Homo sapiens: one gene and its partners. The protein of the gene in region 3 interacts with the protein of the main gene of each other region in a pairwise test. Each region holds a gene or a part of one and is shown on either strand. Other genes may lie near its edges. The genes, in order: ING5, CCNC, MBIP, PECAM1, DIP2A, FXR2 and PLEKHF2.

Evidence for each region.
Region 1: the proteins of MBIP (region 3) and ING5 interact in binary tests that used the Homo sapiens proteins (3 or more experiments, as listed by UniProt).
Region 2: the proteins of MBIP (region 3) and CCNC interact in binary tests that used the Homo sapiens proteins (3 or more experiments, as listed by UniProt).
Region 4: the proteins of MBIP (region 3) and PECAM1 interact in binary tests that used the Homo sapiens proteins (3 or more experiments, as listed by UniProt).
Region 5: the proteins of MBIP (region 3) and DIP2A interact in binary tests that used the Homo sapiens proteins (3 or more experiments, as listed by UniProt).
Region 6: the proteins of MBIP (region 3) and FXR2 interact in binary tests that used the Homo sapiens proteins (3 or more experiments, as listed by UniProt).
Region 7: the proteins of MBIP (region 3) and PLEKHF2 interact in binary tests that used the Homo sapiens proteins (3 or more experiments, as listed by UniProt).

Annotation. Positions count from the first base shown.
Region 1 is NC_000002.12:241,718,374-241,722,788, reverse strand, and holds part of ING5 (inhibitor of growth protein 5), read right to left. Parts: intron 3,307-4,415; coding exon of another isoform or gene 3,168-3,306; exon of another isoform or gene 2,814-3,167; coding exon of another isoform or gene 2,667-2,813; exon of another isoform or gene 982-2,666; intron 1-981. UniProt on the Homo sapiens protein: Component of the HBO1 complex, which specifically mediates acetylation of histone H3 at 'Lys-14' (H3K14ac) and, to a lower extent, acetylation of histone H4. Component of the MOZ/MORF complex which has a histone H3 acetyltransferase activity.
Region 2 is NC_000006.12:99,558,060-99,562,474, forward strand, and holds part of CCNC (cyclin-C), read right to left. Parts: intron 3,623-4,415; coding exon 3,538-3,622; intron 3,378-3,537; coding exon 3,308-3,377; intron 490-3,307; coding exon 438-489; intron 1-437. UniProt on the Homo sapiens protein: Component of the Mediator complex, a coactivator involved in regulated gene transcription of nearly all RNA polymerase II-dependent genes.
Region 3 is NC_000014.9:36,310,261-36,314,675, forward strand, and holds part of MBIP (MAP3K12-binding inhibitory protein 1), read right to left. Parts: intron 4,349-4,415; coding exon 4,252-4,348; intron 1,765-4,251; coding exon 1,699-1,764; intron 1,466-1,698; coding exon 1,313-1,465; intron 1-1,312. UniProt on the Homo sapiens protein: Inhibits the MAP3K12 activity to induce the activation of the JNK/SAPK pathway. Component of the ATAC complex, a complex with histone acetyltransferase activity on histones H3 and H4.
Region 4 is NC_000017.11:64,321,224-64,325,111, forward strand, and holds part of PECAM1 (platelet endothelial cell adhesion molecule precursor), read right to left. Parts: intron 2,623-3,888; coding exon 2,593-2,622; 3' UTR 1-2,592. UniProt on the Homo sapiens protein: Cell adhesion molecule which is required for leukocyte transendothelial migration (TEM) under most inflammatory conditions.
Region 5 is NC_000021.9:46,552,678-46,557,092, forward strand, and holds part of DIP2A (disco-interacting protein 2 homolog A), read left to right. Parts: intron 1-1,491; coding exon 1,492-1,615; intron 1,616-1,897; coding exon 1,898-2,019; intron 2,020-2,144; coding exon 2,145-2,256; intron 2,257-3,304; coding exon 3,305-3,414; intron 3,415-3,725; coding exon of another isoform or gene 3,726-3,752; exon of another isoform or gene 3,753-4,161; intron 4,162-4,261; coding exon 4,262-4,392; intron 4,393-4,415. UniProt on the Homo sapiens protein: Catalyzes the de novo synthesis of acetyl-CoA in vitro. Promotes acetylation of CTTN, possibly by providing the acetyl donor, ensuring correct dendritic spine morphology and synaptic transmission.
Region 6 is NC_000017.11:7,607,834-7,612,248, forward strand, and holds part of FXR2 (RNA-binding protein FXR2), read right to left. Parts: intron 3,441-4,415; exon of another isoform or gene 3,348-3,440; intron 1-3,347. UniProt on the Homo sapiens protein: mRNA-binding protein that acts as a regulator of mRNAs translation and/or stability, and which is required for adult hippocampal neurogenesis. Specifically binds to AU-rich elements (AREs) in the 3'-UTR of target mRNAs.
Region 7 is NC_000008.11:95,150,365-95,154,479, reverse strand, and holds part of PLEKHF2 (pleckstrin homology domain-containing family F member 2), read right to left. Parts: intron 450-4,115; 5' UTR 436-449; coding exon 1-435. UniProt on the Homo sapiens protein: May play a role in early endosome fusion upstream of RAB5, hence regulating receptor trafficking and fluid-phase transport. Enhances cellular sensitivity to TNF-induced apoptosis.

The DNA of each region.
Region 1 (4,415 bases), on a different chromosome or scaffold from region 3:
TGAGCGACACATAATGAATAAGCTTGCTTCCATTTTTCCCATTGTCCTTTAGAAATGAATGCGACTCCAGGGCCAGCCACTGCAGTCATGCACTAACTGAATACACACCTTGTGGACGTTTTCTTCCTGGAGCACACATTTTCAAAACCTCAATAACCCCTCTGAACACGCAATGTTCTAAGAAGGCGCAGCAAGAAAATCATTAAGTATACGAACAGATTGTCAGCTGATGCTAGAAAGAACAGTTACCCACAAAAATCCAGGAACAGCAGCAGCTGGCAGCAGAGGGGTGGAGACCTCGCGCCCACCTTCGGGCCCAGGCAGGGGCATGGGGGCACAGAGGGCCCCCAGGAGGCCGTGAAGCGCAGCACTCACCCACAGCACCGGGGTTCTGGTCCCACTCTGGGGACGAGTCCACTCTCATCTCGGTCCCTCCTCCCAGACAGGACTCCCCCGGGGACCTCTGGACTCAACCCACTTCTGGGCCATCCCTCCAAAGACCCCGGCCCCTTTGGAAACAAGCACACGTCACCTCTGCCAGCAGACGGCTGACACCTGAGAGAAGCCTGCCAGCCTCCCACTCCAGACTGACAGGTGTCAGAGCAGCCCGCACAGTCAACAGCTCTCCCGTAACTGTGACCTCCTCCCAAGAGAACAGCCATGCGTCCTGCGCCCGGGCCCTCCACGCACCTACTCAGGCACCTCTGCCCCAATACTGACTCAACCAGCAGCTCCCCACACACTCCCTGGACCGCCCACCACCCACCCAGCTGTCCACCTGGCACAGGGCCCCTTCCGACCACACACCATCCTTGTCACTCCTTCATCCCCATCAGCTCCCACGTGGGTTTCTACACAGCAGCCTGGCAGGTGTTCCACCCCGTCTATGCCTCCCTCCAAGCCTGCCACCTGTAGCACCATGGCCGTCCCACCAGGACCACAGACCTCAGGTGGAGACTTTCCTGTTTGAAAGGGATGCACTTAGGGGGAAATTTACGCTTTTATATTTCAGTATTTTTCAAATAAACTTACAAGCTGCAGGTACTATAGACAGTGTATTCCCATTAGTACAGAAAGAAAAAGTATCTTCCCTATCCCACCCTCCAACCCACGAATATCTAGTTGGTATGTAAACACAGCAGGTTAGCAGGAGGAACGTGGCCGTGAGAAAAACAGTCACGATCAGGGAAAGCCAAGGAGCAGAAGTCTGGGTCCCAGAGGGAATCAACACTCAGCTTTTCCTTGGATACCTGTCTAAAGCTTTTCTACGCCTTTGCAATTGCCTGTACACATACACACACACTCGGGCTCAGCATGCACCCGGCCTCCCCGCTGCCCTCTGGCACAGGGGCGCCCACCTAAGTCTGTCCTTTGCAGGTAATCTGCTCTTCTGCTCTTTCTCTCTGTCTGGGAATAGACAGGGGTTTCTCTTTAGAGCTGAAATCCATCAGCGTCACAAGTCCAGGTCCAGGTGCTGCCGACACTGCTTTCAAGCAACAGTCTCAAGTAGTCTTCGGGTCTCTCCTCTGACAGCAGCACGCAAGGGTCTACGTCTCAGCCTCCTGCCGATTCCGGGATGCCACCTGTGGCTTCACCTCCAAGGGGCTCCTGCGGTCTCCTCGAGTCACCTCTCACCCGCGGAGAGCAGGGCAGCACCCTCTGCTGCCAACCGTCCCCGAAACGCTGACGCCCTCCTCTTCTGCGCCGAGTCCAATTCTGTCCACAAAGCCCGACCTGACATCTTGAGCTGCCACTTGACCTGTGTCTCAGCATCACCAGGTTCGAGGGCGCTGGCCAGATTTGATGGCTGTGGGAGAGGGCCGGGGGCCTGAGGGGACCGCCCAGCAAGGGCACCCCAGAAGCTGAGGCCACCGTGCAGGCCTCACTGGCCTCTCAGTCTCGCCTGAGGGAGCGCCATGGCGTGTGGCCAGGGAGTGCTGCTATCAGCCCTGAGGGAGGCAACCAGGAGGCCATGGGGAGCCCTGTCCCTTGCACAGGCCAGGGTGACCCCAACTGTCAGCGGCTGCTGACTCCCTTCAGCACCACTGCCACAAGAGGCACCCTCTGTGCTAACTCCCCAGGGTGTGGCAGGCACCCCTCGCCAGACGGTGCCAGCGAGCCCTTCCGCGCCCGGCCCCGATGGCTTCCCAGCACTCCACGTGGCTCCTAGCAGGGGGCTGGCTGCCTGTCCAAGCCCCGGGATTCCAGGTGCTACAGGTGACACTGCCCTTCATCCACACACACAGGTTCTGCCTCGCCAGAGCAAGGCCACAGGGCAGCAACAGTGCAGGGGGCAGCCTCAGGTCACGGGATCTCAGACGAGACACGGAGCATCTGTGCAGTCTAGGAACACTGCATTCCAGGAAGAGCCCCGGGCACGTGGGGAACAGGCCTGAAGAGGGCAGTCCACAGGGACAGGATGGTGCGTGCGCCTGGGTCCCCAGCAGGGAACAGGACCTGCCTTGAGGCAGAGCGGCCTGGCACCACAGCGTGACCACGAGGGGCGTGAATACCCACTGTGCTGATGGGTCAGGGACGCGCACCACAGAACTCCAGAGCCCAGGGGCAGGCGGGCTCCTGCACACACCCAGGATGATGCCCTTGGAGGCACCCGAGTGCACACTCCCGCCCCGGCAGGCCAGGCTTTGGGTCCAACCGACTGGTCCTCAGGATGACCCGTCTGCCCACCTGCACCATCCTCCTGTCCCTCTGGAAGGGGCCTCCTTGGCGCCTTGGACGTCAGAGCCCAGCTTCAGAGCTGGCCTTACCAGCCTGTCTCGACGTCTTGCAATGGGACAGGAGCAGCACTGCCACTTGGGGGCACAGAGAAGAAAGAGATTCACACACAAGCTAGATCCAGAGCCGCAGGGCCCCGCAACTGTCGCCATCGGTGATCACCCTTCTCATCTGTCACTACTGGGACCTGCACGGCAGGCAGCGCTGAGCTCCCAGGCTCCGCATTGCTACTAAACAGTGCTGGTCAGCGCACTGTCAGGACAGGAAAAGCCATGAGGCCACAGTGGATCTTCCTGTGTTTGCAGAGGTGCTGGCTGTTCCTGAGGTCTCTGAAGCTGGGCAGAGCCCTCAGGGAGGAAGCCCCGACCCCAACAGGGAGCTGGAGTCTCCTTCACCCCCACGAGGACCCCCAGTGCCTGCATTCCTTATGCCTAGCATACCCTTGAGAAACAGCACTGGGTGAGGAAGAGACCAGGAGGAGTCCCACTTTCACGCAGAAAAGGCACGGTCGGGACAGGGCCTTCAGGTTCCGAGCAGGAAGGAGCAGGAAGACTCAGAACGCTGTTGCCACTGAGTTAGAAAACACAAAACCCAGCAAGTCACAAAAACCACATTCTCAAAGATGTCGGGGAGCTGTGGAGCAACAAGAGCTAGATGACCTGCAGCCAGAGTGGGGGGTGTTGGGGGGTTGGGGGCGGCGTCCGCCTGCCTCATGCACTGAGTGAGGGCTGGGCTGGCCACTGGGCCACGCTGAGCCCACACAGCCACACATGGCGGCCGCGTCCCCACCGACATTTATAGTCCAGAGGCTGCACAGAGCAACTAAAAGCAGAGGGAAAATCCCTGCAACCTCGGAGTTCTCGAGCAAGGGGTCTGCTCGGGCACCGCTGGTCTCCTCCCCCGCACTTCTACCAACTGTGGAAGCCGCTGGGGCAGGAGGCGAGAGAGGAAACCTCAAGGTCCTCAAGGGGCCTCGGTGGAGCTGAAGCTGAGACCCTGCCCCGCCCCAGGCCCCCAGCCCTATTGGCCTGGACTAAAACAGAACGAACACCTCCTGGGGAGAACAGAAATTTCCCTCTCCACGCTTCCTTTATATCTAAAGTCAGACAGCTAATAAATCATGAGACATGTACCCTCAGCAGGGAAATAGGACTGATTATGTTTTTTTAAAAGCTGGTTACCAAGGAATGGTGGCACATGCCTGTGATCCCGGCTACTCAAGTGACCCTCCCACCTCAGCCTTCCAAAGTGCTGAGATTACAGGCATGAGCCAAAGCACCCAGCCCTACAATCTCTTAAATGAAAAATGTATTAAAGGAGATTAAAACTAACTTAGGGCCGGGCACAGCAGCTCACGCCTGTAATCCCAGCACATCGGGAGGCCAAAAACAGGCAGATCCACCTGAGGCCAGGAGTTCGAGACCAGCCTGCATAACACGGTGAAACCCTGTCTATACTAAAAATACAAAATTAGCCAGTCATGGTGGCACGTGCCTGTAATTCCAGCTACTTGGGAGGCTGAGGCAGAGAATCGCTTGAACTTGGGAGGCGGAGCTTGCAGTGAGCCAAGATTGTACCAGTGCACTCCAGCCTGGGTGACCAAGCAAGACCGTCTCAAAAAAAAAAAAAAAAAGACAGAAAGAGAAAAGAAGGAAGGAAGGAAGGAAGGGAGGGAGGGA
Region 2 (4,415 bases), on a different chromosome or scaffold from region 3:
GGCACTGTTCTAAAAGCTTATATTAACTCATTTGGTCCTCATAACAACCCAACAACACAGGAACGGGTTTGCACATAGATATTAATATCTACCCATAAGAATGACATAATAGTCATTAGAAAACAATAAAATACAATAAAATTCGGAAACAGAATTTTTTCTTTACTCTTACAAGATTAAAAGCCACTGAGTTGATGTTTTTGGATTGATAATTACTATCCATTTTAACATTAAAAGTAATATCTTTATATCTTTTTAAAAAAAAACCTTTTAGCTTGATTTTTTTGCCAGATACACTAGATATAAAGTTATCCTCAGGAAATTTAATAAAGCCAACCAATCTCATATGTCTCATAAACTAAAAAAAAAAAAATCTATGTACTCTGGAGCTTTCTTTAGAATTACATCCTTAAAGCAGATATACTTTTTGCACTTACATACAGAAGTAGCAGCAGCAATCAATCTTGTATTTGAAACTACTCCAAATTCCTAAAGAAAGAAAAGCAGGTACATGTTAACCCAATGAATCTAAGGGTATCTGAACTCTATTCAAAACAGGATTTCCTTGCTCCTGTTTACAATCTGTTCACCTTCTAACTACTTGAGGTGTGAAGTACTTACACTCCTAAATGTACAGGCTGATTACCCCTTATCTGACATGCTTAGGATCAGAGATTTTTCTGATTTAGGAATATTTTGCATTACACTGGTTGAGCATCCCTAATCTAAAAATCTGAAATGCAAAATGTTCCAATGAGCATTCCTTTGAATGTCATGTTGGCCCTCAAAACGTTTCAAATTTTGGAGCATTTAGGATTTTCAGATTACGGATATTCTGCCTGTATTACCTCTCCCCCAAATTGCTACAACTTAAGACATATTTTAAAATAATTTTATAATTTAATAACAATAAAAGGTACCAAATTAGAAACCAAGCCTTAAGGTTACAGTGTCAGTTTTTCCATTTAAATTAGTTTCCAAGAAGATTGTTTACATTCTATACTTAATTGCAAGAATATTAAGTATGTTTCCTATTCAATTCAACCTGTATTAACAGATACTTCATGCCATTCTATGGTAAAACAGTTGAATTTGTGAATAAGATAAACCTTAATTAATCACCAAAAGAACTAAAAAAAAAAAAAAACCATATAAATAGTTACTATCCTTTTTAGAACAGGGAGACAGGAATTACGTAAGACTTCCAAAGTCAGTTCCCATTTCCTCTTTCAACTGAACAACCACCATTGTGAAAATACTAAAATTTATTATGATCCACCTTATATATACTGTTTCATTTATTGCCTCGTAAGATTTCTAAAGCCTTCACTTCATTTTAAAATAAAAAAATCAAGAGTTGGTTTCTTATCCAACAAAAGGAGCTAAACTAAAAATCTATTTAAATACCTTCAGCCTACATCCTTATCCTGTGTAGGGGAAATGTATGTGTACTAATATATTTGTTTTACATTTAAACCTCCAACTATAATAACTGAAAAGAAAAAGTAAAAGCCTGAGACATGTTCTTAAATGAGCTTTCCATACAATTTCCATAAAACTAGAGAAAATACAGAAAGATTTGGTCACAGAGATAAAAAAAAAATAATAATAATGCTACGACCAAATCTGAAAGACTACATTCTCTTTCTCAGGAATAATTCTTTTTTTTTTTTTTTTTGAGATGCAATCTTGCTCTGTCACCCAGGCTGGAGTACAGTGGCATAGTCTTGGCTCACTGCAACCTCCACCTCATGGGTTCAAGCAATTCTCATGCTTCGGCCTCCCTAGTAGCTGGGATTACAGGCATCTGCCACCACATCCGGCTAATTTTTGTATTTTTAGTAGAGACGGGGTTTTGCCATGTTGGTTAGGCTGGTCTCAAACTCCTGACCTCAGGTGATCCACCCGCCTGAGCCTCCCAAAGTGCTGGGATTACAGGTGTGAGCCACTACACCCGGCCTAGGAATAATTCTTTATCCAAAACTCAAAGGGAAAACTTTCATTCAGTAAATCACATCACAGAGTTCTACTCAGTAAATCACATAACAATATTTAACAAGTAAGATAGATTAAAATCCTCAAATTAATCTACAAGATTAAATGTTTATAAAGATTTTTTGTCTTGGTCCTCCATACTGCCTGTGCTTAAGAGACTTTAAATTATTACATGGTAATATTTAAATAAAATCAAATATTACATAGAATTATTAGAATTAGAAAACTCAATCCATAATAAGGACCTTAACTGATTCTGCCTTCTTAAACTACCACTCACAATTAGAAAACATAAACTTCTAGAAAGCTTGTCTTAATATTATTTCTAACAGAGTCAATTGTCATTATTTAGGTAACAGTTGGGAAAGATGTCATGGATAACCTTAAATCATGGCTAAAACAAAACTAAATCAAAGTGGGTGCCAAAAGGAATGTAAACTTACTAGGTAAAAATCACATTCAATATTCAAGAATACAACTCTAAGAATAGAACTCTAAGACATTATCCAAAAATAGAAACATAATGCAAAGATTTCACACCACCAAAGACTACATTATTTATGAAAAACAGCCAATATCTGCTATTATTTTCTGGACTTTAGCTGAGCTCTTTCAAAAATACTACAAAGGTAAAACAGTTGAACAGAAATTCAGTCTCTGCCGCAAGTTCCTATCTATCTTCTCTCCCTTACCTAATTTCTCTACGCTCACAACCTCAACTTTTACTTGTTAGACTCTATATAGCTATAGCTTCCCCTAATCCTTGCCTTCCTTCTGGCTTGGTAGGCAGCCAATCATCAGGATGATGGGAGGGAAGACAGGAGAAGATAAGCATATGGGTGAGAAGCATAAGGGACATTCTCAGGTTATGGTAGGCAAGCTGTGGTACTTACTGAATACTACTCAGTGCCAAACAATAGATGTCTCAAAGGCAGCAGAGGAAAGTAGTTAAGAACACAGGATTGGTAACGAGACTCCCATGGTTCAAACACGGGCTCTCACACTTACTAGCTATATCATCTTAAGCAAGTTCTTCATCTCTGTCTCAGTTTCCTCATTTATAAAATGGGAATACTACTACTATGTATTCCAGTTTGTTACAAAGATTAAGTCAGTTGGTACACAGTAAGTGCTGTATGTGTCTGTTAAGTGAATATATAAGGATATGTATATATTTCTTTGATTTTGTACAATTTTAGTATTTTGCATAAATTACCATTTATTAATTTTACATAGGCCATGTGAAAACTGGGGCAGATTAACCAACATACATTGACTACACTTTGATGAAGAACAGAAAATTGTTTTATACCTCTACTTTGGATGCCAAAAACACACATGTAGGAGCCATTAATACAGGATCTATACTTTTCAGAGAATACCTAAAATATGATAAAACAAAGTTAAATATCATTCATACAGAAAACACACTGGGAAAAAAATCAAGATAACTCTATGGTAGACACATGATTCATTTACACTGTGCTAAGGTTCATCAACATTAGATAAGAGTTCAAATAAATAAAATAAAAACAATCCTACCTGGCATAGAATCTCTTGAAATATACCGTAGCAGTGGCAATAACTTGTTGTCTTAATTTAAGATGTTCACCTAATGCTTGGATAACTAAAAGGCAAATAATGAAATTTTAAATGTATCTTCTGGTATCATTATAATATTAACATTGAACAGTAACTTCCATGTGGTTAAATCATAATTATGTTCATTTTTAACAAAGGAAAAAACCTACACATGCTCTATGTGAGTCACAGTGGTCTAATTCTAGGATTTGCAAATGTGTTAAGAAATATATAGGTATGCATAAACAACAACAAAACAACAACAAAACAGAAATTGCCCCACAGGAAAAAATTATTCATCCATTAAGGAAGTTGAATAAATATTTCCCCTCTATCTTCTAAATATTTTTAATGCTTTTCATAGTATCTTTATAATAAATATAAAAAGAAAATATTAGACACCTATGAAACTTGTTAATACTACCACTTTTTTTGTTGTTTTGAGACAGAGTCTCGTTCTGTCGCCCAGGCTGGAATGCAGTAGCACGATCTTGGCTCACTGTAATCTCCACCTCCCAGGTTCAAGTGATTCTTGTGCCTCACCACGCCCAGCTAATTTTTGTATTTTTAGTAGAGAGGGAATTTCACCATGTTGGCCAGGCTCATCTCAAATTCCTGGCCTCAAGTGATCTGCCCACCTCTGCCTCCCAAAGTGCTAAGATTACAGGTGTGAGCCACCACACTTAGCTTTATACAGCTCACCAAAATAAATAAATAATACATAAAAATCCATAACGAATCCTCAAAAAAAAGATAAGTTTACAAAATAGTGAACCGAAAGTTAAAAAAATTATGTGACAAACCTACTACATGTCAGAGTAAAGATCTATCCCTACATC
Region 3 (4,415 bases):
CTAGCATAGCTTCAGATAGCTAGTATACTCCAGCTATACTGGATTCAGATATCTCCTGAACCATATTTTGTGTTTTTGTCCTTTTTTGCAAATGGTGTTTCTTCTTTTTGGAATGCTTTGCTCTGGAAAATTCCTACTAATCCTTCAAGGCCTCAAATGTCACTTCATTAGGATGCCATCATCCCTTGACCTACCCTGAGAGAGTCAAACACTAACTTTCTGTCCCTCCGTACATACATCTGCAAAGGTGAAATAAGCAACTGTCCATTCAATAAACATTTGAGCACTTGCTTTGTGCCAGGCACTGTAATAGGTACAAAGAAATGAATATGACAGACATAGTTGCACTCTCACGGACTATCTAGCAGGAGACAGACATTAAACAAACAGAACCATGATAACTGCTTTAAAGGGGAGCAGGGAATACCAGGTGCTATATAAGATTATACAAAAGGTGAATCTGCACTGGTCTAGGATTAGGAAGAAAAAGCATGGACAGAAGGGCATGAGTATAAAGATCCTAAAGCAGCACAACGAGTGGGAGATGGGAAGCCCAGAGGTGTAGCTGGAACTACAGATGTGGACAATACTATTTAAAATTACAAACCCCCTTCAATCCCAATCTCCACATTTTTAGCTGGGAAGAAACAAGATCAAATTTGAGCTTTAGAAAAAGCAATCTGGCCACAGGGTAGAGATGATCTAGAGGAGTCCAGTGGCAAAGAAACCAGTAAATATCCTTCCATCAGTCCAAGCCAGAGATCACAGTGGCTTCAACTCTAGTAGTAGCAGTAGAGATAAGACAGAAGTGGGCAGATTTGAGAGATATTTATTTAGAAAACAGAATCAACAGACATGGTGACTAAATGGAGAGGGAGACTCAGTCTCTGCACCCAGTGAGGACTTGGGTTTGAGCAGGGTGCAGTAGTGACACATGATTGTAGTCCCACTGACACAGGAGGTTGAAGCAGGAGCATTACTTGAGCCTAGGAGTTCAAGTACAACCTGGGCAAGACTGGACTATCTCTTTTTTCTTTTTTTTTTAGAGTTGTCACTTAGTATCTTAGGCATGTTTGCTTGGGCTCTTTAAACTTCAATTTATTTATCTGTACAGTGATAACACCACCACCATCTCAAAAGGGTACTATGACCTTTTAAGTGAATTGACATACACATAACACTTCCTGAGTGACTGGCACTTACTGTTCAAGAAATGTTAGGAGCTAAATGAAAATTTGGTGACTAAATGAACTGCAATTTTTTAACCATTTGCAAAGGTTCATTATGAGGTGCCACTTAGCACTTTGCTTACCTGTCTGTAACCGCAAGTGGGCCTCAATATTTTGTAGTCGTTCTTCTACAGCCTGATTACCACAGTCTCGAAGCATGCTGTTAGGTTTATGACCTGACCCTGGAATTCCTTCAGGTCTAGTCTGTGGTCCGTATGTATTCACAACTCTAGAAACTAAATTAAGAAACTTTTGAGCCTATATACATTTGTATTTCAAAAATCAGAAATTCTTATTCCTTAACAGCACTTTATATTTTTTTCATAAAGACCATCTAACCACAAGTATGAAGGACGGCAAGATGTTTTTGTTTTAAAATAAAATTTAGATGGGAAAGTTATTTCTATTCCATTTTGCTAATAATCTAGACTTCTGTCAGTGACTCAGATGTCATGTGGTGGTTACTTACCTTTTACGTGACTTTTAAATCCGGGGTAAGGGGTAAAAATCGCATCAGTTCTTGCACAACTATTTTCTAAGGAGAATTTAGATAAATATAAGTTTAAATATATTCTTCCCTTCAAATGTATGAGATTTTAATAAACTTTCAATAATTCATATTAACATTTTACTCATAATAATTTTAATAAATAATAGTAACAATAAATTACTATCACACATAGGATAGAATTTAGTGACCTTCTTTACCTGTCAAAATTTATCATAATATCTAATATTCTTACCTAATGTTCAGATTTATATACAGAAAAGCCATCAACATTAAGTGGCACAAATTGATACAATTTTGAAAACCAATGTCACTATTTGGGCCACTGGAGAAAATAATCTACCATAGAGTATTTAAATTCTACTTCATCGTAGAAATAAAACTCATCATTTTTACTAGAATTCTTTTAATTCAGCATTTTTTATTTTAATGACCAAATTAGTGAACATCCAACAAAAAGAATTATTTAACATTTTTATTTCAGAACTCCACACAAAGATGACCTCAAAACCTCAAGTACACATACATTTCCACTCTACCTAGATTTCCAGTGCTCATTTTAAAAACCCTTCATCACAAAAGTCATCTACTTCTTCTTATCCCACCACTTTTCAAAAAAGTTTCATTTTAGTAAAGGTCTATTGTGAAAATTTGTCCCTATTTTTTTCCAAGCTGAAAAGTAGTTTCTTTCAAATTAAGTATCAATGCATAAATTACAAAAGGGGAAAATTGGAAAGATGTTAACATATAATACAACTAATTAACATAATTGTTATATATTAACATACGATACTACATAGTAATAATATATACTTATGTTTGAAATAATGTTTAAAGGCCACACATTGGCAGTAAATCTCCTGTAAAATTCCCCTGAATATTTTGTAAAAAATGGCTGGTAAATGAGATTCTTTAAAAAAAATTATTTTTTCCCCCCTATGAAATTTGATTTTTAAAAATTCCACTGCTTATAGTTAGGTTAAATTTGTAGGTATTAAAAGGAACACACTAACATATTAAAATACATTTGTATTTTTTTCAGTTGAACTTTCCTTAGTAGTTCTGTTGATAAATCAAATAGTATGCATAAAATTCCAAATCCACTTAGCTTTTATATCTAGAGACTAAATAGACATCTTTCCTCCTTTTTTTTTTTTTTGGAGGCACCTCAAAATATGCTTAAAGGGCCATCCTTTCTCCATTCTCTTCCTACCATTTCATGGGGCTAAGGGTTAAAAAAAGAAGCTATCATCCATTCCAGAACTATATTCCAAACATATAGATTAACTGACCATCAGTGAGAAATTCAGCATGGTGTGAGTGTATGACTGCTAGTCACTCTCCACAGCAATTCTTGCTAGCACTGTTTTGAGCCAGCAAAGAATTGAATGGGCCAAGGAATCCTGCTGAGCATTTCAATTCTCGTCAATTTCTATCCCCTGGTGGTTTATAATAATAGAGTTAGCAGGGAGAACAGAGGAATAACATTAGTGACACATGTGCTTGCTCTCTCAACAAACCCTTTCTCATAGTCGCTTGTAGTTGGTTGTAGTACCTGAGATTTTGCCATTGTTGCACCTGTTCTGAAAAGCTAACAGGAAAATATACCAAATTTAGAGATGCACATGTGTAATGTTAATAGTAGCACACAGCTAAATTCAGGACCCAATACCAGCCTATATTATTTCATTAAGAGAATCAGTGTACCAATGTGATATGAGTCATTTCTAGGTTCATCTGACAATTCTATGTTCATAATAATTAGCCATGAGATATTAGAGGCAACAAGAAACATGTTCATTCCAATTATGAACTCTTCTCCATAATTTTTCCTAAGAACTACTTGTTCTGATTATTACTATGGTGCCTGAGTATAATCTATGGCACTGCATTGCAATATTTTGTATTCTGCAGCATACTTGCAGATTTGTAAATGTACTATAGCATCAAGTAGAGAGGTAAAGGTGAATCAGATGAAAAACAGCAAATGTATGCACTATGGCAGAAAGGAAAAAAGCAAGACACCATGGTCTTCATGATAAATTGGTTGTATCGTGACACAGGACATTTCAAACAGCTCAGGAGTAGTGAGAAAACTGCTCCCTCTGGAGGAATATTAACTTTACTAAGTTCACTTACGTATTAACATCATGATTTCACAGTACATGTATAGGTTTGAAATTCATAGAGCTCAGTTCCTTTTACTAGTGAGATAGATCAACCTTCTCACTCGTACCTCACCTTCATTTCCTAAAGGAACTTTAAAATAATCTTCACCTGTGATAAACACTTTTTAATGTTAGCATTTACTTTGTGTAACCAAAATGAAAACCAGTTTGCAATATAGTCTATTATTAAGCAGAAGGAAACTCTACTGTCTTAATTACTAACTAAATCCATGAAATAAATTGAATTGTGTTCTAAAAGCTATTCATTTAAAAAATAAATAAAAGATTAGAGCAACTATAAAAATTGTGCTTAAAACCCTATGAAAATTAATTTCCAGGTAGTTACCTTGATTACAATCAATAACATTGCAAAATTCCCTGACGTTGTTTTCATTGATTTCAGCTTGCTTTCTTTCAATAAATGCAGATATTCGTCTGTCAATCTACAAACAACAAGTTTTAACAGTGTAAACATAAGATTTTTTAAAATAATACCCTCTCGCCCCCGCC
Region 4 (3,888 bases), on a different chromosome or scaffold from region 3:
TGAGAACACAAGAGGGCGCTCTAACTAATGAGTTCCGCGGCCGAGAAAACTCCTGGAGTGGGTGCTCCTGGGATGCTTCAGGTTTAGACACCGGGGTTACGGCAGCTGCCGAGGAAGGCTAAAGCCAGCGTCCTGGATTCAGACAGACCTTTTAGCCATTAAATCCACTAAGAAAGATCCCTGCGCATGAAGTTTCCTCCTCGGAAATATAGGCAGAAGGGAAAGTAATTTTAAACTCATGTGTGCTCCACAGGCCGGGGGCGGTGGCTCATGCCTGCAATCCCAGCACTTTGCGAGGCCAAGGAGGGAGGATCACTTGAGCCCAGAAGTTCGAGACCAGCCTGGGCACCATGGTGAAACCTCATCTCTGCAAAAAAAAAATTAAAAATTAGCCAGCTATGGCGGCTCACGCCTCTGGTCCCAGCTACCCAGGAAGCTGAGATGGGAGGATCGCTTGAGCCCAGGGGTTCGAGGCTGCGGTGAGCCATTGTTGTGCCACTGCACTCCAGCCTGGGCAACAGAGCAAGCCCCTGTCTCAACAAAACAAAACAAAACAAAAAATTCAGTCGTGCTGCATAAGTAAGGCACCAGGAGTAGGAATAGGGTCTTTGCAGCTCCCGTGGCAATTGCCCTTCTCTGGTGGTGGCAAGGGACTAAGGAACTCCCTGGACACAGGGGATCTGGCTGTCCCCAGATCATCAACAGAGACATGAAGGTCGTTAGAGGTCGTCTGATCCTTTGACCTCAATCTGAGCCCACCACTCAGAAAACCTGGAAATTGTATGACATTTTCGTGATACAACTCGGTGTGTGTGTGTTGGGGAAAGGAACCAACAGCTTTCATCATATTGTCAAAAGAGTCTAGGCTGGGCATGGTGGCTCACGCCTGCAATCCCAACCCAAAGGCCTGTGGAGCACACATGAGGACAAGGCGGGCAGATCACCAAAGGTCAGGCATTCGAGATCAGCCTGGCCAACGTGGTGAAACCCCATCTCTACTAAAAATACAAAAATTAGCCAGGCGTGGTGACATGTGCCTGTAATCCCAGCTACTCGGGAGGCTGAGACAGGAGAACTGCTTGAACCCAGGAGGCGGAGGTTGCAGTGAGCAGAGGTTGCGCCGCTGCAGTCCAGCCCGGGCAACAAGAGCGAATCTCCGTCTCAAAACAACAAAACAAAAACATAGACCTGCTCGGTTCTCTCTGTGACTTCAGAGGCCCAAGGAGTCCTCAGCACTATAGATGCATGTGGCCCCTCAGAAGACAACATTTCACAGATCTGCAAAGAGCAAAGGTCAAATTTATTTAATACAACATCCACGAGGGTCCCTGCAGCTGTGTCACTGAGGCAAACAGGAAAAGTGATTTTGGCTAGGCGTGGTTCTCATCTGTGAAATTCCACAGCGCAATGACAGCAGCCTCTCTCCCACCCACTCAAGACACTGTCAGGAATGTCTTAAGACCTCAGGAGACCACTTCTTTAGCAAGCAATTTTGTTTTTTGTTTTTTTTGAGATGGATTCTCACTCTGTCACTCAGGCTGGAGTGCAGTGGCGCGATCTCCGCTCACTACAACCTCCGTTTCCTGGGTTCAAGCGATAATCTCACCTCAGCCTCTTGAGTAGCTGATACTACAGGCATGCGCCACCACGCCCGGCTAATTCTTGTATTTTTAGTAGAGACAGGGTTTCATCAGGCTGGTCTCAAACTCCTGACCTCAGGTGATCCGCCCACCTCAGCCTCCTGAAGTGCTGGGATTACAGGCGTGAGCCACCTTGCCTGCCCTGGCAAGGAATACATTTTTAAAAATTAGTAAGAAACATACACATTTCAAGTTTTCAATTAAGAATAATATTTGCTGATGGCACCATCTTCCTGTCTTTCAGCCTTCAGCATGGTAGAGGAAAAGAGAAAGAGTGTAGACAAAAACAGTTGAAGAACATCTGTGCTTGTTCCACCTTCATTTTCTGTTTTGTGCGTTGCCTGAATGAACGGTGTCTTCAGGTTGGTATTTCACAGGCGGTGCTCCCAAGTAGTCTGGTTTTCCCATTTGTGGAGGGCGAGGTCATAGAGGGGACAGGGGGAGGCTGTCTGGTCAGCACTGTGTATTTCCAAAGAACAAGGACTAGCCAAAACTACAAGCCTTTGAAGGACCAAAGGAAAAGAGAAAAAACCAGCCTCTAACCAGGCCATGCGCTAGAAATGATTGAGTATAAAAAAGAAAATTGGTTTCTGTGTATGAGGGTGCATGGAAAAGGTCTTTATCTCTGCACAAAACAAAATATTCAAGTTTCAGAATATCCCAATGGCCTTGCCCTGGATCTCCTCTTGTGCTCTTCCAATTTCCAAGGATGTTCCAACTTGGTGGAAGGAGGGTATGTGGGAAATTCAACAGCCCCTCTGTATCTCTTTCTACCCAACATTAACTTAGCAGGATGGATTTAAGAACCGGCAGCTTAGCCTGAGGAATTGCTGTGTTCTGTGGGAGCAGGGCAGGTTCATAAATAAGTGCACAGAGGTCTTGAAATACAGGGATTATCTGTTCTTCTCGGAACATGGATGTCCTTCCAGGGATGTGCATCTGGCCTTGCTGTCTAAGTTCCATCAAGGGAGCCTTCCGTTCTCTGTAGCGACAAGAAACAAGGCAAGTTATGATCACACCTCTCAAGATTGAAGATTGCCCTGGTGGAGAGAAATGCAAAATGACAGCACTTCTCAAAGAAAATGCAAAGCAGGGCTGTCACACACTGGTCCCCCACCCTGCAGGGTTCTCTCTGTGACTTCAGAGGCCCAAGGAGTCCTCAGCACTACAGATACACGTGGCCCCTCAGAAGACAACATTTCACAGATCTGCAAAGAATAAAGGTCAAATTTACTTAATACAACACCCACCAGGGTTCCTGCAGCTGTGTCACTGAGGCAAACAGGGAAAGTAATTTTGGTTAGGTGTGGTTCTCACCTCTGAAATTCCACAGCACAATGACTGCAGCCTCTCTCCCACCCACTCAAGACATTGTCAGGAACGTCTTAAGACCTCAGGAGACCACTTCTTTAGCAAGCAATTTTTTTTAGATGGATTCTCACTCTGTCACTCAGGCTGGAGTGCAGTGGCGCGGTCTCTGCTCACTACACCCTCCCTCTCCTGGCTCCTGCCCGTATGTATTTCTCCTTCTCTCCATGCCTGCTCTGTAGGGACCATAGCCTCTGTCCCTGCATACATGTTGGACATCAATCACATCAGTCCACCAAGTAACTTCATCAAGCACCCATGTACGCCCAGCACAGCGTCCCAAGGGTGCCCCACTTACCCACAGAAGAAGAAAGGCAACTTTGTAAGAGATCTGACTTCTAGCTCCAGTTCTGTCTCTAGCTAACGTGAGATGTACCCGTTTGAGGCCTGTTTTTTAATTTTGAAAATGAAGGACTGAACTTAGATGGTCCAACTGAAATGTTTTAAAATGATATGATTCTACCTTAAAAAGAGAATGAAATTCTGATATATTTTCAACACAGGAAAACCTTGAAAACGTTATGCTAAATGAAATAAGGCAGACATGAAAGGACAAATATATGATTCCACTTATGTGATGTACCTCAAATAGTCAAATTCATAGAGACAGAAAGTAGACAGTGGTTGCTAGGGGTTGCTGGAGGGGCAATGGGGAGTTAGTGTTTAATGGGTACAGTGTTTCAGTGGCTGCTCTGCCTATGGAGTAGCCATTCTTTTGTTTCTTTACTTCTCTAATAAACTTGCTTTCACTTAAAAAGAAAAAGCTCTGGAGATGGATAGTGGTGGTGGTTGCACAGCAATGTGAACGGACCTAATGCAACTGAATTATACACTTTAAAATGGTTAAGTATACACTGGAAAATGGTGAATTTGCCGGGCG
Region 5 (4,415 bases), on a different chromosome or scaffold from region 3:
CACAGTAATAAGATTAAAAGGACCCCTACTCTCAGGAGGCTTAAAATCAGTCTTTCCTGCTAGAAAACAAGTTCCGTAGGAGAGAGACTTTGTTTTTCTGGTGTATTGGAAGCATCTAGAACCATGCCCAGTAAACATTTATTTTATGATTGATTGAGTTCTAAAGCCTACAAACCAGCCAGTGATTTATCATTGACCAAGGTAAAATCAGCTTATGGTGTGAACCTCAGTATCAATACAGTGGAGTGATGTAACCTGGAGTGCTGGGGAGGGGGCTTTGAATGGAACTGGGTAGCAGGGGCTATGAAGAATGATGCCCAGTGGCTCAAGGCAGGAAAGGAGGCCAGTGTGGTGGGGGCCAGGTGGTCCCAGGTAGGGGATGCAGATAAGGCTGGGGGTCGCTGGGTTTTCCCTAAGGATGCAGTGGGATCCCAGACCTTGCGGGCTTTGAGTCCCAGTCCAGATCTCAGGTTCTGTCCTGATGGGGCCCTGACTCATATGGACTGGCAAAGCTTCCGGGATTTGGAATCTCAGGATCTGCCCAGCCCTTGTGCCTGGACACAGCACATAAGTGCGTCCACTGGTCTCTCTCTTCCACTGCCTTCTGTCAGTAGAAGCCACCAATCGAGAAACAGGGAGTTTTGATGTTACACTGGTCTGCTCTGGAGTTTTATATTTATTAGACTGAATTGCACTTTTTATCTTCTTAAGAAGGACTAAAAAAGCTGCGAGGCCTGGCAGGGGATCAGGGAGGATGAGTGTCCTGAGCAGAGAGGTAGGGTTACCAGGTATTTCTGTTTGCCTTGAACTGGTCACATAGCCCCAGTGCCCCTCAGCAGAGAGACAGGGTGAATGAAGGAGCTGGTGTAGTCAGTCCTAGAGGAGACACACAGATGCCTCTGAGAAAGCCGGTTGCAGATGACACACGCCCAGGCTCAGTGCAGGTGACCTGTGGGCATGGAAAGTAGTACAATTCAGGGATGTTTGCTTATCGCTTATTATGTATTTATAATGGTGTCGTATGGAATATTTTATTGAAAAGGCCAGAAAGGTCTTCTTTACCCACGTGTTTCTGGCTCTGCCCTGGGTGAATGGAGTGCCCGCATCTCTCCCTCTTAGCTGGGACCACACAGGAGATACTTGCATGCCTGTCCCTTCACTGCTAGTGAGAGAGTACAGATGGTGAGAAAAGACACCAGTCGTGGACCATGTGCGGTGGCTTATGCCTGTAATCCCAGCACTTTGAGAGGCTGAGGCGGGCAGATCACTTGAGGTCAGGAGTTCGAGACCAGCCTGGCCAACATGGTGAAACCCCATCTCTACCAAAAAAAAGACACCAGCCGTACGTCTAGGACTGACACATTGTCATTATCATGGACGCTAATCACAAGGTGTCGTGTGCAGTGGCGTGCAGGTGGTGTGCACGCAGATCTGCGAACAGCCCACCTGCACGCACCAGCATACAGATGAGCTCAAAGATCGCTTTCCTAGGGCACCGTCACAAGCACTGCAACCTGTGTCCAGCTGCACAAAAGGGCTGAGAGAGTGGCCGCGGCTCTGATGGAGAAGGGAAGACTGAGTGTTGGGGACCATGTGGCTCTGGTCTACCCACCAGGTGGGCTCACTGTGGGGCTGTCCACCTGCAGCTCTTTGTAAGCAGCCTCCTATCCTAAGCAGCCCCCTAGACACTCCCTCCCCGAAGCATCTTCCAAAACTAAGCTCAGCCCCTCCTCTCTGCATGTGTCTGCCTCCTCAGCTCAGCTACCCCTGTGGAAACCCAGGAGTCACCCATGCCCCCCCAGCACCACCTCCCCTCCTCTCTCGCAGGAACAGTGAACAGAGGCTGGTGGGAGCCTCTTGCGGCCGGCCTCCTCACAGCCAGTCCTTGTCTCCACAGGGGTGGACCTCATTGCCGCGTTCTATGGCTGCTTGTACTGTGGCTGCGTGCCTGTCACCGTGCGGCCCCCGCACCCTCAGAACCTCGGCACCACACTGCCCACCGTCAAGATGATCGTGGAGGTGCGCCTACCTGGCCCGCGGGTCAGAGTCTGTGAGTGGGAGGCTGCAAGGCTGCCCTCCGCTGCCCCCTTTTCTGGGCAGCTTGAGAGGCCCCGCCCACCCACCCTTGGCCCCTCGCCATGCAGGTCAGCAAGTCTGCATGCGTCCTCACCACGCAGGCTGTCACACGGCTGCTCAGGTCCAAGGAGGCTGCTGCTGCCGTGGACATCAGGACCTGGCCCACCATCCTAGACACAGGTGCGTGTCCTCGCACTGCCCAGGACCAGTCCCTTTTCCTTTCTTTGTTGTAGGTGTGGTGTGGCCTGGCTGCCGTCCAAAAACACACGTGAGGCAAGAGCAGTCCTGGCAGGAGCCTGGCTGACAGCAGGGGGTGCCCCGGGCCCTGGTGGGGAGTAGGGGTCCCTGTCCCATGTGTAAACCCACGCTCCACTCAGCCCACAGCAGCCGCACCCAGTCCCAAGTGGTGTGGAGCACAGCCTTGCCCCTCTCACCCGCCTCCTACTGGCATGGGGGCTGGCAGCTCTCTGAGGCTTTCTGCAAACGCTTTGAGGACACAGCTCCCACCGCATGCCGCCACTCCAGCATCCCTGTCCCCATCATTGGTGAATGCTGTCATGCCCCATGAAATGCTGAGGGCCAACAGGGTGAGGGTCAGAAACCCCCCTGGCTCCCCTCTGCCGTGGACCTGTCTCAGCCTGGGCTGGATGGGGCTGGGCCAGGGCAGCTGGTGTAGGGGAGGGCAGGCTCAGAGCCAAACAGCTGGCCAGGGCCCCAAAGCCTCACGGGCTTGCCTCAAGGGGAGCGGTGCCTGCCCTGCTGAGCCTGTGTCCAGTTGCACCCAGGGAGGCAGTGGTGTCTGGCTCATGGGGCCACGAGAACTTGATGAAGCACGCAGAACCCAGAGCCCGTCCACAGCTATTCTTGCTGTGGTCGGGACTCGGCTCATCTGGGCTTTGCCATAGGCTCTGTGACTTTTGGCAAATCCCTAGTCCTCTAATCTTTCCTACTGGTCAGTGACGTGATGCCTCCCCTCTTCGCCCTGCCTCGTCCCCCATCCCCACAGGCTCAGTGTGGTCTTGGTGGGACCGGGTAGCGTTTCCATGAAGAATGAAATACGCTTTCCTGAGCACGCACAGCCTGCATCGTCACGGCCCCACTCCCGTCTGAGCTCACTCTCTGCAGGACTCCCAAGGACAAATCATGTGTCGCCTCTTGCCTGTGAAAGCCCAGAGCGTTCAGAATACATGTGGGAACACTAATGTTGCTGGTGTCTCCTGTTTAACAGATGACATCCCAAAAAAGAAGATAGCAAGCGTTTTCAGGCCCCCCTCCCCCGATGTCCTCGCATACTTGGACTTCAGCGTGTCAACCACTGGGATATTAGCGGGAGTGAAGGTAGGTCCTCTGAAATCTTGTTTGCTTCAGCCCCTAGAAATCAGGAGGAGTGGACAGAAAGGATGTCAGATGCAGATTTAAACTGACAGGTCCTTCTTATGCAAAGCACAAAGCAACAATTTTGCTTCTTAAGATTTGTGTTAAATACCAATAAATGCTAAGATGTGATTAGCCTGAGAGTAATGCGTTTTCTGATGCATTATGGTTATGTCTAAACTTTCTGATTTATGACTGTCTAGCTTACAGGAACTGGTGGCTTTGAAGAATCTCTTACCTTGCTGGGAGTCAATAGCTCAATTAAAATTTTTCAGGCGGGGCGTGGTGGCTCACGCCTGTAATCCCAGCACTTCGGGAGGCCGAGGCGGGTGGATCACAAGATCAAGAGATGGAGACCATCCTGGCCAACGTGGTGAAACCCCGTCTCTACTAAAAATACAAAAAATTAGCTGGGCATGGTGGCAGGTGCCTCTAATCCCAGATACTCAGGAGGCTGAGGCAGGAGAATTGCTTGAACCCGGGAGGCAGAGGTTGCAGTGAGCCGAGATTGTGCCATTGCACTCCAGCCTGGGCGACAGAGCAAGACTCTGCCTCAAAAAAAAAAAAAAGAAAAAAATTTTAAAAATTCATTACCCTGAAATTTTGTTTCAAAGATTTTTAGTGTACCATTTCTTGGGTATTATTTAGGTTATATGGGGATTTGAGCCAACCGTCTTTTAAGGAAATAAATATGATGTTTGGTAGTTCGGAGCTATGGTCTAGCCATGTGAACAGCGGACACTGCCATCCACCCTCTCCCCTCCTGAATTTCATTTCACTTTTTTTTTTTGAACTTTATTTTACTCTTAAGATGTCGCACGCGGCCACAAGCGCCTTATGCCGCTCCATAAAGCTGCAGTGTGAGCTGTACCCCTCGCGGCAGATCGCCATCTGCCTCGACCCCTACTGTGGCCTTGGTTTTGCCCTGTGGTGTCTGTGCAGGTGAGTGCAGGGCCCCTGCTGCC
Region 6 (4,415 bases), on a different chromosome or scaffold from region 3:
TGCCCACGCTGGAGTGCAATGGTGCAACCTTGGCTCACCGCAACCTCCGCCTCCCAGGTTCAAGCAATTCTGCCTCAGCCTCCCAAGTAGCTGGGATTACAGGCATGGGCCACGACCCTGGCTAATTCTGTATTTTTAAGAGAGACAGGGTTTCTCCATGTTCGTCAGACTGGTCTCAAACTCCCGACCTCTGGTGATCCACCCGCCTCAGCCTCCCAAAGTGCTGGGATTACAGGTATGAACCATCGCACCAGGCCACTTTTTTTTATTTTTAATATATTTTTAAATTAAAATTTTTTTTTAATAGAGACAGGGTTTCGCTATGTTGCCCAGGCTGGTCTTGAACTCCTGGACTCAAGCAATGCACCCGCCTTAGCCTCCAAGAATGTTGGAATTACAGGTGTGACCACTGTGCCCAGCCCATTTTTTACCTAAAGATATCTTGTTCCAGCACTGTCTGTTGAAGACTATCCTTTCTGGCCAGGGGCGGTAGCACACGCCTGTAATCCCAACACTGGGAGGCCGAGGCTGGCAGATCAGCTGAGGCCATGAGTTCGAGACTAGTCTGGCCAATATGGCAAAATCCCATTGCTACTAAAAAAAAAAAAAAATAATAATAATAATAATATATAAATTAGCCAGGCGTGGTGGCACATGGCTGTAACCTCAGTTATTCAGGGTGGCTGAGGCATGAAAATCACTTGAAGCCAGGAGTTAGAGACTGCAGTCAGTCAAGATCATGCCATCGCACTGCAGCCTGGACAACAGGGCAAACTCTGCCTCAAAAAAAAAAAAAGAAGAAAAGAAGAAAAGAAAAGACAAGACTATCCTTTCTTAGCTGAATTGAACTGCCTTTTCATTTCTATCGAAAATCAGGAAGGGCAATTTAATGTATAATGACAGAAGATTGGTAGTTGATGGAGGACTTTTGGGAGTGACAGAAATGTTCATTCCTTTGATTGCAGTGATGGACTCAGTTACATACATGTCAAAACTTAACAAATGGCACACTTTAAATATGTCTACTTTGTTGTATGTCAATTTCAGCTCAATAAAGATGTTTTTTAAAAAAATTAGAGAGCCCATACAACACAGGGAAACCTCATCTCTGCAAAAAATTTATAAATTAGCAGGGTATGATGGCTTGTGCCTGTAGTCCCAGCTATTTAGGAGGCTAAGGTGGGAGGATCACTTGAGCCAGGGAGGTCGAGGCTGTGATGAGCTGTGATTGCACCACTGCACTCCATAGCTTGGGCAACACAGCAAGACCGTGACTCAAAAAACAAAATAAATAAACAAAAATAAAAGAATTAGAGGTTTCAAAAGGCTAATACACAAGAACTATTCATGAGCTTTGCTGCTAGGGACAAAGGCTAAGCTTAGGAGAGAAAACACCAAAAATGCCCTTGGCAAATGCACAGCTCCCACCTCATAGAACTAATCAATCACAAACACTTACCAGATTGCTATTTCCTTACGATGGGAAAATCTAAGCCTGCATTTCACTCTTCATACAAGCCACCTTTCTCGTCTTTAGGGATATGTCTTGCTATAGAGGCTGCAGTCAGTCAAGATCATTCTTGACTGAATGTTCTTTCTTAGAGCCTTACTACTGCCCAAGGCTTTAATTACTACTGGTACTTCCTGGCCTCTTTTTTACCCATGCTTTTTCTTTCTCTGACATTCTCTTCTCCAGAAATGTTTTTTCTACTCTTCATTCAGATTTTTTTCCTTTTTCAAAAAGAACCTGAGTTATGAGCATGTTCATTCAGGTTTAATGCCAACTCCTACTGTTCTCCATTCAAGTCTTCTGAGGCACTTTTACTTCTACTTGCCTGGGTCTCTCTTCCCTTTTGGGTTCTTCCCTTAGCTCCTGCTCAAGTGTCCTCCCCACTCCCACAACCACTAATATTTTATCCATTCCCTCTTCTTTTCCCTGTAATCCCAACACTTGGAGGCCGAGGTCGGTAGATCAGCTGAGGCCAGGAGTTCGAGACCAGTCTGGCCAATATGGCAAAACCCCATTGCTACTATATATATATGTATACATATACATATATATACACATACATATATATGTATATATACATGTATATGTATATATATACATGTATATGTATACATATATATACATGTATATGTATACATATATATATACATGTATATGTATACATATATATATACATGTATATGTATACATGTATGTATATATATACACACACACACACACACATATATATAAATTAGCCAGGCGTGGTGGCACATGGCTGTAACCTCAGCTATTCAGGGTGGCTGAGATATGAGAATCACTTGAAGCCAGGAGGCAGAGGCTGCAGGGTCGTCTGGATTTCTAGAATTATTCCAACCAGCCTCTTCCGCTGACTTTATCCAGTTCTTTACCCAAAATGTCTACTCCAAGCCTTAGAAGTAGTTTATCAAGGCAGGAGTTACACTGACAGAAAGAAGTGGAAAAGAGACAGAGATGAGAATCACTAATTTACTGCTTTTGTGGAGAGATTTCTACTCCTAGATATATTCAAATCGGCTATGCCTATGGTGTAATCCAATTCTCCTCCACCATGTTAGGCTTGGCCCCAGGGTGAGCAGCAATATTACCCTAGTTTTCCCAGCTACCATGACTTCCAAGGCAGAAATGCAAAGCTCAGAATGGAGTAATCTCTCACATTACTCAGCAGTTCAACCAAATCTCACTCAACCCTTATATTTCCAGGGTCTTTTTCCTTCAATTAGTCTCCAAAACTAGCTCTGTCCCCAACTTCATATTCCAATCCTGTCTCTGCTCCTAAATTCCACCCATTCATCCCATACTAGTTTTTTTCTCCAAGGGTATCTGTGGTGGAAGTGAGCCCCAAGTTCTGCTCAGTCTACGCTCATTGTGAAAATAAGCAGGTGAAGGCAAGAGCAGGTGGGTGGAATGTATTAGGGAGCCACCTAGATCCAGAGGATAACTTGATTCAGTGGCCATAGCATCACCTGGCTTTGGCTTCTGGAGCCTGGCACCAAGCCAGCAGAGGAAGAGAGAGCCCCAGGTTCCTAGGTACTTTGGTTTCCTCAAATTAGAAGATATAAAATTGGTCCCCACCTTCACCGTCTTCTAGTTCTAGACTCCCAAAGCAAAGGAGGGGGTTCTAGGAGAAGAGCAGGAACAGTCTGAGTAAAAACCAAGTACTGAAGCTGAGGATGCCATGTTGATTAAGAAAGGAATGGGGATTAGGATATCCAGATGAGGTTTGGAGTAGGAAGATTGCGCCCTGGACGGTGAATACTTCATTTGGGAGAGTACAACTTAAAGAATAAAATACATTAGGCCATTTTGTACGTCTTAAGCCATTTTGTACGTCTTAAGCATGATGACTGCGGTTTCAAGCTCACGGTGAGGTATGCCTCCCTCAACCCTTGTTACGGATGCCAGTCTGACATGAAAAAAAAAAGGACGGAAAAAAAGAGTAAATTCTGACAAACTTAATTTTCAGATAGCTACAAAATAACTTAGATCCCAGATCTAATATTTTATCCTTTAAGAAAACTGACGGGAGGGCGTGGTGGCTCACGCCTGTAATCCCAGCACCTTGGGAGGCCAAGGCGGGCGAATCTCTTGAAGTCAGGAGTCAGAAACCAGCCTGGCCAACATAGCGAAACCCCGTCTCTACTGAAAATACAAAAATTAGCCAGGCATGGTGTTGCACACCTGTAATCCCAGCTACTCGGGAGGCTGAGGCACAAGAATCACTTGAACCTGGGAGGCGGAGGCTGCAGTGAGACGACATCACGCCACTGTACTCCAGCCTGGATGACAGAGGGAGACCCTGTCTCAAATAAAAAAAAAAGGAAAAGAAAGAAAAGAAAACTGACAACAGGGCCCAATTCTGAGAGAGGAGAAAGGGACCTTCCCAAATGTACAATTCCAGAAGCAGTGTAAATACTCCCTGACCCATCCCAAGTTTGCTGAGTCATGAATATTAAATCAGCAGCAAGGTCAAAACGGATAAGTATCTGTAGGGTACTGAGAGTGGAAGATTAGCCTGAATTTAGGGATTTGTGGTTTTTAACTCAGGAACAGGGCAGAAAATGCTAACCTGCCCAGATCCACATTACCACATTACCTGGCTTTCAGCTCAACCCCAAACTCTACTCTCTGAATCACAGTATCCTGGTCCCCATCTATTCAAGTCTATCACTGCCACAGCACACAGGAGAAAGGGAAAAGATTCAGAGAGACTTTCTGCTGGACACTTATATGTGGGACAGAAAACGTGTCCCTTCCCAGCCATCTCATACAGTTCATTTGAACTGGATACCAATCTTTCTCAGCTGTGCAGGGCTCCTACGCTTCCTAGAACAAAGCAAACATCATATCTTGATCTTGGACTCAACTTAAGAATCACTTTTCTTGG
Region 7 (4,115 bases), on a different chromosome or scaffold from region 3:
ATGTTCATTACTGGGTGTCTTCCCACTTTTGGAGAGTAAATCAGTAACACATTTATTTATATGATTCATCCATTCTGATTTCTCCGTAGCAGTGGCAGCATAAACTGCAAAAGATTTAGTTGGTGTCTTGATTAGCCATCCATTCCTTAAGTCTCCCTCATCTTTGATGGAATCAATAGTGACATTTTCCAGGGGAATAATATGTTGTTTGTTATATTTTTTCTTCTGGATGACAATATTGCCATATACAAGAATATCATTAAACAAGAAAAACTGCCTTGCTTTGGGCTTTTTCCTGCACAACTTAGTCAATACTCCTTCTCCAATAAGAACTCGTCCAGGTATAGTTAAAGGTTGACCAGCTGCTCCAAAACAGTTTTCCACTATACTTATACGTCTAGTATTTGCTTCACTGTTTGCCAAGCGATCCACCATCTTTCACTAATAGCCTTTTAAAAAAAAGAAAAAGAAATTAGCACATATAAATTATAAATTCCTATAAGTTAATTATATATAAATTAAGCTAACAAATCATTGCTTTTACACAAAGGCAAAATGTTCTAAAATTCTTTCCCTCTAAGATAATCACTAAGCACATCAAAAGGGCTAACATTTCTCAATTTTTAAAATGATGAAAAACACTTATTTATCATCTCCACGTAGCACCATACTAGTTAAGCAGGTATTTGTAAAAGTATAAACTTCCTACAGACATAATTGAATGAAAGACGATTGGATAATTAACATAACTTATCTCTGCAAAATAATAAACCCCATTCAATGAAATGTAATCTCAATGGGATTCTGAACAATAGGGAACAAAATGTTACATAAACTAAGAAAAATGACTACAATTTTCCAAGTAAGCTATTACCACTGAGCTACAGCCTTAATTCTCTCACCTGGATTACTAGAACTGTTTCCCAACATGTGTCCTGGCCTTCAATCTTGCCCCCAAATCAATCTTTGGGCAGTGATCTCTAAAACCCTAATTTGACCCCATCATTGCTCAAAATGATCCCTTAACCTATTAAATACAGGGTGTTCACGGCCTTTCATTACTTGGTTCTTGTCACTCCAACCTCACCATAAGTCAGTCTTCACCTCAAATGTCATATTCTAAGAACACTCTACTACTTGTAGTCCATTTCACTGTTGTTCCTTTTACTACTTACTACTGCAGCTAACTCATATTCATCCTTCGAGACTTAGTTTAGGTAATCGTGTCTCCTCCAGGAAGCCTCCTTTAAACTCCCATGCTAGACTAAAACCCTTCCTGTGAGCTATCCATATTCCATGTATATTCTAGCTTCACTTTTACCAAAGGACTGAAATCTGTTCCTCCAGAGACCATGCAGAACCTAAAAAGCAGAGATCATCTGATAGTTTTGTTTGAAACTGATACGGTTTGACACAGAAAAGGTACTAAAAAATGTTAATAACATTTTAACAATGTGCAAAACACCCTATTAATCTAAACATTTAATCTCTAAGTCCAATATTGACTTCACTCAAGTCCCAGAGTTGTATCCTATTTCAAACCTACTAAACTAATACTACTATACTATAACCAAGTCATATTAAAGAACAACAAGCCTTGAGAAGAAGACCATTTAAAGTTTAAAGACTAACAGCATAGTATGTAAGTTCCAGTATTCAGCTCAAAAACTGACACTATAGCCCTTCTTGGCCTTCATTATAAAGGACACTAGAATTCTGGTTATTTCTGAATTCTGTCTCCCTGCAAATCTTGGGTCCTTATAAAGCCCTCTTGTCCTCCACAAAAGTAGGATGTAGCAGGCCTAAAAGTTGTTCCCAAGAATTAATAGGATAATGCATGGTTCCAAACTGGAAAGGTTTCTAATTAGGACTAATATGCCAGCCAATTAAAAGCCTACTATCCTATGCACAAGTACATCACAGAAAAGGAAATAAAAACGGCTAATAAACAGGAAAAGAGGTTTCAATCTCTATCATAATTAAAGAAATTATATTAAACATTAGTATATTTTTCACTTAGATTAATAAAAATTTTTAAATTTACTAAGATTCAGTACTCATAAAGGTATAGGGAAATAGGTACCCTTGTACACTACAGAGAATATGTGTATTCACCAATCTAATTAAATAAATTTCACTCACGTGCATAGAGATATATACAAGGATAATCAGCACAGCATTGTTTATAACAGGAAAACAATTGGAAAAGCTCCAAATAGCCATCAAGAGGAACTGATTGAAAAAGTTATGACACACCCTTAATCATATATCTTGAGAATAAGACAGATCTAAAACCAGTGACAAGGGAAATGCTCAAGATCTTTAGGTGGGGAAAAGAGATGAACTTCCTGATCTCATTTTTATTTCAAATAAATACCACATTTCATCACATCTAAGGTGCTATAGATTTTAAGACATATTTATGTGCAACTCATAAAGAGAAAAATGTTGCCAATTAAACCACAGCATACCGTTGATTATAAGACCAATTTCAAATACATATAGTAAAAAATGTTTATCTTTAGACTCAATGGAATACATATTTCAAAAGCATAATCATAGACATCTGTATCTGTAAGCACACACACAACATAAAGTTAAAAAATATATACTATACTATCAACAATGGTAATTTATCTCTGGAAAGTATAATTATGGATCATTTTTTCATACTTTACATTATATTCAAGCATTCCACAAGTATTTGTCAGGCACTTAGGATCTAGGTGCAGGAAAAGTAAAAATAAACACCACAGGCGATCATACTTGAGTATGTGACAACAGATAAAAATTTTAAAAAATAATAAATTAAACAATACAGGCAAGGTCCCTGCTCTTCAGGGTTTACATTCTAGTTGGAGAGAAGGAAAGAGAAAACAAAATTGAAATCTAGTACTAATCAATGCTATGATTTTTTTTTTAAAGTGATTTTTAAAAGAAACTGAGAGCTATTCAGACTACATGGTCAGGAAAGGCCTTTCTACAATGTTGTCATTTCAGCTGTACTAGATGGACAGACATAAGAAGGGGTAAGGATAGGGGAGAATATTCCAGACAAAAGGAGTAACTGCAAAGGCCCTAAAACAGGAAAAGACATTGGCACTTTAAAAAAAAAACTGAAAGGATCTATTTCTCTCCACCTGAATCAACTACTGAGTCCACCCATTTGAACATATCGTTATTAACTCATATACAACACAAACAGATTTCCTATTATTGCTACTATGAGAATTAATACTATCATAAATTTGTACTGTGCTTTTCATATTATTTTCTGATTTGAACTGTTTGAAATGCCTATGAAGTTACTAGAGAAGTTTTTATTGTCCCCCAAAGAAGCATCTAATAATATTAGCTGAACTGTGAGCTGATGAAGAAATTAAGGCACAAAGATATTTAATAATGTAAAAGCAAAACTTAACCTGGAATGAACTCTACTCATAGGGAGTCCAACCAATGTGCTGAGCACTTTGCACTTATTACTGTATTTCCTCCTCACAGCAACCTTATGATACATGCACTATTAGCTCCATTTTATGGATGAGTAAACAGCCAAAGAGGGGTTAAATAACTTGCCCAAGGCTGTCACAGCAGAACAAGCCTCAAATCTGATTTCTCTGTGATGTTACAGTATGTTATGGTACACTAATTGTTCCTAAGAACTCCACTGAATCTACAAGAACTCTAAGGAAGCTATTAACTAACCTCTGGACCTTCATTGCAAACCCTAAAAATACTGAAGATAAGGGAATACTACCTTGAACAAATCACCTGAAAGGATGGATATGTCATGATTTACCCAGCTGGTGTCTTGATAATCTTTCATTGTCCAAATGTTTCAATATATTAAGTCTAAATCTTTGTTCATAAATCTTTCTCCCTGTTTAATAATGATGCAACTTAAGCAAGGTTTGGGGCATTATTAATTAGTATTTGGCTGCAGCAAAGCAAATAGCTTTCAAAGTTTGACAATGACCAACATAAACACATTTTATATTGCAAGGTTACAAACACTCGTATAATTATTTCAACAATGAATGATGCATTCTTTTATCTTCATTTATTTTAATGATTCTGGCAGCCCACTTGATTGATTGGTGGGTTGTGACATATAT